3 separate regions of the Homo sapiens genome follow, and all the other regions are linked to region 3. The links come from fine-mapping of genetic effects on gene expression. A gene starts in region 3. Each other region holds a variant in brackets. All regions are shown on one strand. Distances are from middle to middle. Region 1 has its middle 5.0 kb from the start of CCNC. Region 2 overlaps USP45 (ubiquitin specific peptidase 45). Region 3 holds the start of USP45 (ubiquitin specific peptidase 45).

Evidence for each region. PIP is the estimated chance that this variant, and not a neighbour inherited with it, causes the effect.
Region 1: its variant is the best candidate, but not a certain one, in a credible set for the expression of USP45 in whole blood (TOPMed, PIP 0.76).
Region 2: its variant is the best candidate, but not a certain one, in a credible set for the expression of USP45 in blood mononuclear cells (TOPMed, PIP 0.63).

The regions. Positions count from the first base shown.
Region 1 is chr6:99,572,228-99,574,993 of GRCh38, reverse strand. It overlaps the pseudogene TSTD3. Among named protein-coding and RNA genes, the nearest start is that of CCNC, 5.0 kb to the right of the region's middle. The variant G/A (reference allele first, on the strand shown) is at 1,314.
Region 2 is chr6:99,445,067-99,447,832 of GRCh38, reverse strand. It overlaps USP45 (ubiquitin specific peptidase 45), which reads left to right. Exons shown (of 18, transcript NM_001346022.3): 14 at 1,370-2,036. Among named protein-coding and RNA genes, the nearest start is that of PNISR, 21 kb to the right of the region's middle. The variant TCTTTG/G (reference allele first, on the strand shown) is at 1,344.
Region 3 is chr6:99,513,925-99,516,690 of GRCh38, reverse strand. USP45 (ubiquitin specific peptidase 45) reads left to right here and starts at 1,268. Exons shown (of 18, transcript NM_001346022.3): 1 at 1,268-1,299. RefSeq lists silencers at 481-700, 1,011-1,380, 1,431-1,530 and enhancers at 447-1,352, 1,353-2,260.

The DNA of each region.
Region 1 (2,766 bases), 58 kb before region 3:
AGCTAACAGTTATTGAGCTTTTACTATGTATCAGGCACTGCTCTAATTTCATTTAAGTTCATTTAAACTTCACCACAACCCTATGACTTACCAATAATTATCCCTGTTTTACAGATGAAGAAACTGAGACTCAGAGTGACTAAGTAGATGACCAGGGTTAGACAACTGGTAAGCAGCAGAGCTATTATTTGAACCTCATCAGTCTAGAGACTGAGTTCTTAACTAATACACTTTATACTACAGTTTGAATATGCCCTCAGAGTTTACATGTTGAAAACTTGATCTCCAATGTCATGATGTTGAGAGGTGGAGCCTAATGAGAAGTGATTAGGCTATGAGGCCTCTGCCTTCATGAATGGATTAATGCTGTTATCCTGGGAATGGGTTCCTTATAAAATGATGAGTTTGGCCCCGTCTTGCTCTCTCTCTCTCTTTCTCTCTCTCTCTCACCTTCTCTTTGTCCTTCTGCCATGGGATGATGTAGCAAGAAGGCCTTCACCAGATGCCAGCCCCTCAATCTTGGACTTCCCAGCCTCAAGAACCCATGAGCTAATACATTTCTGTTCATTATGTGAAAGTTGTCAAGATCAAAATGGAGTCACTTGTGTTAAAAAACAAAAATAAAAAATAGAGCCTCAAAGGGCCATGAAGGAAGGGTTCTCACAAATAAATGCCTGGTAACAAAAACTATCACAAAAGATGCTGCAAAAACCATAACATTGCACAAACACCACAGCAACCTTGCACGAAAAACAGTATTTCTGTGAGGATATCTGCCCAGCAACTGCCTATCTAATCTTGGACTGGTGTCACCTTTGTAATTGATCTTTGTAGCCATGGCTAACTTATCTCAAAACAATTATGTAATCCTTTTCATTTTTTCTTTAAAACCCTTTGTGTTCCTTCACCTCCCTAAATACCCATGTAGTTTACTAAGGGTGCACATACTCCTATTGCAATGCCCTATTCCTAAATAAAGATCATTTTCTTTTAGAGAGCCTCTCTCTGTTATCTTGGTTGACAATTATAAATTACCCAGTCTGTGCTATTCTCTTATAGCACAAAACAAAGACACTTTTCCATAATTTAGACGTGTATTCATCTTCAACAAATACAGGTATACCAGAACAAAAATAAAGGGAGGTACAGGGGATGACTACATAAAGAAGAGGATGTTTTTCACAATAAGGACTATTAATAACAAAGCAAAGTAATTATGATAATAATTTAATTAAAAATGAGAGGATTATCTCCAATAATTGTGTTTGAGAAGAAAAACTTGTACTACAAACTTGGAATAATGTGCTTATAGC[G/A]GTTTCATCATAGTAGTTCTGTTGAAGCTGTCTAGTTGGATAAAAAAGTTATTGCACTGTGAATCAGAAGAATCGGATTCCAGGTATTCTTGCCGCTATTTAACTAAGTGAGCTTGATAAAGCCACTAACCTTCTAGCTCCTAGTTTACCAGAAATAGTATTCATGCTGCTGGAGAAAGCACTGTAAGAAGAAAAAGGATAAATGCTTTCTTGTCACAGGAGATTGAACACTAGCATCAAGAATTTATTAACATTTTAAAATACTAAAAGAGTATAATTGGATTGTTTGTAACACAAAGGATAAATGCTTGAGATGATGGATACCCATTTACCCTGATGTGATTATTACTCATTGCATGCCTGTATCAAAATAGCTCATGTACCCCCATAAATATACACACCTACTATGTATCCACAAAAATGAAAAATAAAAAATTTTTTAAAAAGAATTTATTGAACTCATCCCATTTGAAAAGCACAAGGTAAGTTGAAAATTGGAAGGGACAACATTAATTTATTTCATCAAGTTTAAATTAGTGGGTAGTGAGGTCTGAAAAACAATACTCCTAAAATTATAAAGAAAAGTTTAAAAAATCATCAGCGAAAAAAGGCAAATCTGCTAGATAGCTCATGATCTTTTTGCATCCAGGTAAGCTGGGATATCTATGTATTTTAACAGCTTTTGTAAATTTATCTATTCCACTAGAGATATCCTTAAATGAAGTTAGCTTTTGGTTCAAGTCAATTTAATTCAACCTACATTTATAGAATGACCTCAAAAGCAATTTACTCTGAAACTAAGGAAGCCTAAGCTCCAGGCCTGTCACTTGCACAGCCCCCATGAGCACTGGGAGCTGCTGGGCATTTGGTGGAAGCAGAAACCAGGTCACAAACAGGAAGAGGTTCTATGTAGCACTTGTGGTAAATTGCCTAAAAGAGTTCACAGAAGGAAAGGACCTGAATTTCCACAGCTCTAGTAAGTTGTTGTGGCTCTTTTTGCATTCTAAATGTAGTACTCACTTTTCAACATAATTTTGTATCCGTAATGTTATATCAAAGCACATCCCCCAAATTCTATAAGAGATTTATACAAAGATGAAGGATCTCACTGTTTTGTAGGAAGAAGAGTGCAGAATTAGGTATAAAACAAAATTGCGGGGCACGGTGGCTCATGCCTATAATCCCAGCACTTTGGGAGGCTGAGGTGGGTGGATTAACTGAGGTCAGGAGTTTGTGACCAGCCTGACCAACATGGTGAAACCCCATCTCTACTAAAAATCCAAAAAAAAAAAAAAAAAAAAAAAATTATCTGGGCATGGTGGCAGGCACCTGTAATCCCAGCTACTTGGGAGGCTAAGGCAGGAGAATCGCCTGAAGCCATTGCACTCCAACCTGGGTGACAGAGCAAGACTCTGCCTCAAAAAAAAAAAAAAAAAAAAAAAGTGCTAGTCCA
Region 2 (2,766 bases), 69 kb after region 3:
GGTACCCGGCCGTGTGAGGTGTCAGTGTGCCCCTACTGGGGGGTGCCTCCCAGTTAGGCTACTCGGAGGTCAGGGACCCACTTGAGGAGGCAGTCTGTCCGTTCTCAGATCTCAAACTCTGTGCTGCGAGAACCACTACTCTCTTCAAAGCTGTCAGACAGGGACATTCAAGTCTGCAGGGGTTTCTGCTGCCTTTTGTTGGGCTGTGCCCTGACCCCAGAGGTGGAGTCTACAGAGGCAGGCAGGCCTCCTTGAGCTGTGGTGGGCTCCACCCAGTTCGAGCTTCCTGGCCGGCCGCTTTGTTTACCAACTGTTAGTATTATATGTATAATAGGAAAGTTTGTTTCCAAAAAAAAGTACTATATAAATTCAGCGGAGTGGAACTTGTTGGCTAATGTTATTTTTCCTGATTTTGCAGATAAAAAAAATTGAGGCAAGACACTTTTTATAACTTACTCTTCTTCCCCTGAATAACTAAAACTGAGTATCAATTACTCATGATAGTCTTTTCTTTATTTTTTGTCTTGACCCTTCAGCCAAGGTATAGGAAAAGAAAAATGTACTTCAAGCCATCAGCTGTGTGGAAACTTTAGTGAAACATTTCAGGTAGCTTAAAATTTTTAATTAGTTGATTCCCCCCTTCCCAAACTTAGGTTATTTTTTTCCCGTAATTTTCTTCCAGATCTATGGCAACCAAGCAACACTGTGTCATAATAGTTTATAGTTTACTTTTGTTACTTTTTAATTTGTTTAAAAAACAGATACATTTTCAGTGTTTAAAAATGAACAAGTATGGAAAGGCTTATACAGTAACTGAAAAGTCTCCTTTGGGAAGCCAAGGTGGGAGGATTGCTTGAGGTCAGGAGTTCAAGACCAGCCTAAGCAACATGGCGAGACTTTATCTCTACAAAAAATTAAAAAATTAGCCAGGTATGGTGGTACATACTTGTAGTAGTAACTACATGGGAGGCTGAGGTGGGAGGATCACTTGAGTCCGAGAGTTTGAGGCTGCGGTGAGCTGTGATTGTGCCACTGCACTCTAGCCTGGGCAACAGAGCAAGATGCTGTCTCTAAAAGAGATTTTTCTTTTAAAGAAAAAAGTCTCCCTCATAGCCCTGTTCTACAAAAGTCCTATTTCCTTCCCCACAAATAGCCTCTGTTACACTGTTGTTAGTTTCTTGTGTGAAGATTTACTTTTAAAATAGAACTATTTTTTAGTATATCTTCTAGTGATCTTAGTTTCAGTAGGCTTAGGAAATGGATCTGAGAGAAATGGTATTTAATAACTATGATATGTTTAAGAATTATTGGCATTTATTTTCAATGAGGTTACAAGACTCTTT[TCTTTG/G]AAAACACTGTCAACTTACAGAGTCAACTAATTCATGACCGAAAATGTATTAGAAAATTGTCATCTGGAGAAACTGTCACATACCAGAAAAATGAAAACCTTGAAATGAATGGGGATTCTTTAATGTTTGCCAGCCTCATGAATTCTGAGTCACGTCTGAATGAAAGCCCTACTGATGACAGTGAAAAAGAAGCCAGCCATTCTGAAAGCAATGTTGATGCTGACAGTGAGCCTTCAGAATCTGAAAGTGCTTCAAAGCAGACTGGGCTGTTCAGATCCAGTAGTGGATCCGGTGTGCAGCCAGATGGACCCCTTTACCCTCTGTCAGCAGGTAAACTGCTGTACACCAAGGAGACTGACAGTGGTGATAAGGAAATGGCAGAAGCTATTTCTGAACTTCGTTTGAGCAGCACTGTAACTGGAGATCAAGATTTTGACAGAGAAAATCAGCCACTAAATATTTCAAATAATTTATGTTTTTTAGAGGGGAAGCATTTGAGGTCTTATAGTCCCCAAAATGCTTTTCAGACCCTTTCTCAGAGCTATATAACTACTTCTAAAGAATGTTCAATTCAGTCCTGTCTCTACCAGTTTACATCTATGGAATTACTAATGGGGAATAATAAGCTTCTATGTGAGAATTGTACTAAAAACAAACAGAAGTACCAAGAAGAAACCAGTTTTGCAGGTAATTATTTTTTTAATTACATAATTATTGATCTCCTGATAGTGTCTAGTGAGTTACAAATTTCACTGAGAATTTTACTGAGAATCTTGTCCCTATACTTGTGTTACTTAGGCAGAGATTGTTTCATTCATATTTGTACCTGAGCGCTTACAATACTGGGCAGAACAGATTTTCAAGTTTTTTTATTTAAATAAAGAGCAGGAAGTATACAACTCTGCCTTGAAAATGCAAACCCATATAATCTTATTTGAGGGAACTACCTATCTGAAATCTATCCAGAAGAAATATCCCTACAACTTTTTTTTTTTTTTTTGGAGATGGAGTCTCACTCTGTTGCCCAGGCTGGAGTACAGTGGCGCGATCTCGGCTCACTGCAACCTCCACCTCCTGAGTTCAAGCGATTATTCTGCCTCAGCCTCCTGAGTAGCTGAGATTACAGGCGCCCACCACCATGCCCAGCTAATTTTTGTATTTTTAGTAGAGATGGGGTTTCACCATCTTGGCCAGGCTGGTCTTGAATGCCTGACCTCATGATCCACCCGCCTTGGCCTCCCAAAGTGCTGAGATTACAGGTGTGAGCCACCATGCCTGGCCTCCCTAAAACTTCTAATTGTATCACTGGTAAGATAAATGATAAAGCTAATGTGTTTCACAGATCCTATCAATCTGTTGTAAACTCAACGTAAGATAAATTTTGAAGATTTTAAATAGTAGCATGTCATAAAGCTAG
Region 3 (2,766 bases):
ACCTCTTCTTATTTGAGGAATATTTTCTTTTTCCCTAGGGAAAAAAATTATCCTAACCCCAAAATGATAGTGTACCTCTATACCTGTAACAGCAACTGGCATATCTGTGCTCAATTATGTTTGTTAAATGAATGGTCCTTGTTAAGTACGATATAAGCAAATATCAACCTTCTTTGCCAAGTTCTCCACATGTAAATACTGTTAGAAGAGTTTTTAAAGAAAAATTTAGTGTTTGCAATTTTAACTCTCGTATCTTCTGATTTCTACGCCAATGCTCTTATCCTTAAAGCCACATTTGTCCCTTGGCTGAAGAGTTGTGAAAGATCAGGAGACTTTTAGAACCTATCCATAACCAGTGTTGGCATTTGCAATATCCATGATTGAAACAAAATATTTTCAAACCAACTACTTTTACTAAACATGCAATGTGCTGGCCACTTCAACAGATAACCGGGCTTTGAGGAGGTATAGGTGTATTTCAAGAAATGTACTATCTAGCTAGGAAGAGAGAAGGATAGGTAAGACAACAGCAATGGGGGAAAAACCACAATAATATATGACGAATGTTAGATGTGACTTTAAGAGTTCAGGGGGCGGCGGGGGTGTGGGGGCGGAGCCGGGCGCGGTGGCTCAAGCCTGTGATCCCAGCACTTTGGGAGGCCGGGGCGGGCGGATCACAAGGTCAGGAGATCGAGACCATCCTGGCTAACACGGTGAAACCCCGTCTCTACTAAACAAAATACAAAAAATTAGCCGGGCGTGATGGCGGGCGCCTGTAGTCCCAGCTACTCGGGAGGCTAAGGCAGTAGAATGGCGTGAACCCGGTAGGCGGAGGTTGCAGTGAGCCGAGATCTTGCCATTGCACTGCAGCCTGGGCGACAGAGCGAGACTCCGTCTCAAAAAAAAAAAAAAAAAAAAAAGAGTTCAGAGGAGGGTAACGGAGGGAAATCGGAGGCTGTTTCAGAAGGTGCCCAGCAACAAGTGGGACTTAAGCCGGACTCCTGCAACATCCGAGGTGCGCACGCTGGCCCAGGATCCTAACAAATTGCTAGTCGGTGGCTATGAGTCTTAGATTATCAGGGACTCTCCGGGCTCTGCGGACACGCAGAACGCAGGCGCCACGCAAGCCGGCCCCGCCCTTTCACCCCTCCCCGCGCTCCCGGGCCCCGGGCGCGCCGCCTGGAACCCTCCCGGTCCTGGCTGGGGGCGGGCGAACGAGGCCCCACCTCTGCCGGGAGCGGGACGAGCGCGCAGGCGCAGTCTCCCCAGGTTGTAGACGCTGCGGCCCGGCCCGGCGGGGTGAGTTGAGAACGCGGCGCTTTGGTCGCAGCGGCGGTATGGTCGCCGCAGTTTCTCGGTCTTCGCTTCGGCGACCTTGACCCCCTTGTGGGTGGGCGAGGCTGGAAGAGAGGCTCCCCACCCCACTCGGCTTCCTGATCCCTGGGGGCGCCGGGCGGTCACCGAGGGCCGTGTGAGCGCCGCTCTGCCGGCTCCGGGTCCATGCGGCTGCGGGAGAAGCCCTGGGCGTCGGGGCTGGCCTGGGAGGGGCCCGAGTCCCCTGGTGACCTGGGCGCGCGGCGGCCCCACACCTTTCCGTCCGCCTCATCGCGGCGCATTTCTCTTCACATCCTCGGGGTGTGTGTGTGTTGGTGACCGGAGGAAGCCTGTCTAATGACTTTTCTGGAAGCGTCGTGTATTAGGAGCTCCGGGGCCGGACTGCTTGGGTCCGCATCTCCATCCACCGCTTACTGGCTTTGGGACCTCTGCAAGTCACTTCACTTCTCTTTCTCAGTTTCAAGTGTAAAATGCGGAAAATAATAGCAACTTATCTCCTAAGGTGGTTGTGAGGGTTGCGTGGGTTAATATTTGTGAAGTGCTTAGAACTGAGCGTGATACACAGCAAAACCATAAGTGCTGCTCATCTTTTTGAGCTTGGTATATAAAAGGAGATAGTGACCTTTTCTTCTCTTTCCAACCCCCATAAATAATTGCCCAAGAGTAGGAAAAAAGGATTTTTTTTTCTTAAGGATATGGGCTTTTTGCATAGCCTGTTTAAAAACAAAGCTTTCTAAACAACTTAGTTGCACATCCTACTTTAGAGAAAAGACAAGTGTTAAGTGATGGTGACTTGAAAACTGTAAAGTTTATTGTTTGGAAAACCGCATGAGAAAAATGGCCAGAACATATTTGTGCTAAAAAGAGTTAACATAGCAGGCCTTAAGACTGCTATCCTTAGAAAGGACTGCTTGCAATGTTGGTGCTTGTTTGGCATCTGGGAACTTAGATTTTTGGGTTTGTGCTGAACAGTATGTTTTATGCCGAAATTACCAGCTTCTGTAAAAATCCGGGACACCAAGTCTTTAATGGGCTTCCCTGCGCGGAAACTGCTGCATTTTCACTGATGGAGGAAGGATGTGTTTTGTTTGACCCCTCTTGGGAGGGAGACCGCATAAGGAGCCTACACGTGATTCCTCCAGACTCCGCTTGTGTCTTTTTCTATTATGATGAGCCTTTATATCCATACTGCATTGTGTAATAAATGTCAGCCATGAATTCAACTATATGTTGAGTCCCGTGCATCCTATCAAAGCTCTAAATGTGGGGGAGATCACGGAGATCCTCAGCCACAGTTTTGTAAATTTGTATAAAGGTAAGGGATATAAGTGCCGTTTTTTTACGAGGATATATTTCCTAGTGGTACTGGGCTTTTAGTGTAACCATCACCTGAATAATGTACATTGTGTCCATTAAGCAATTTCTCATTCC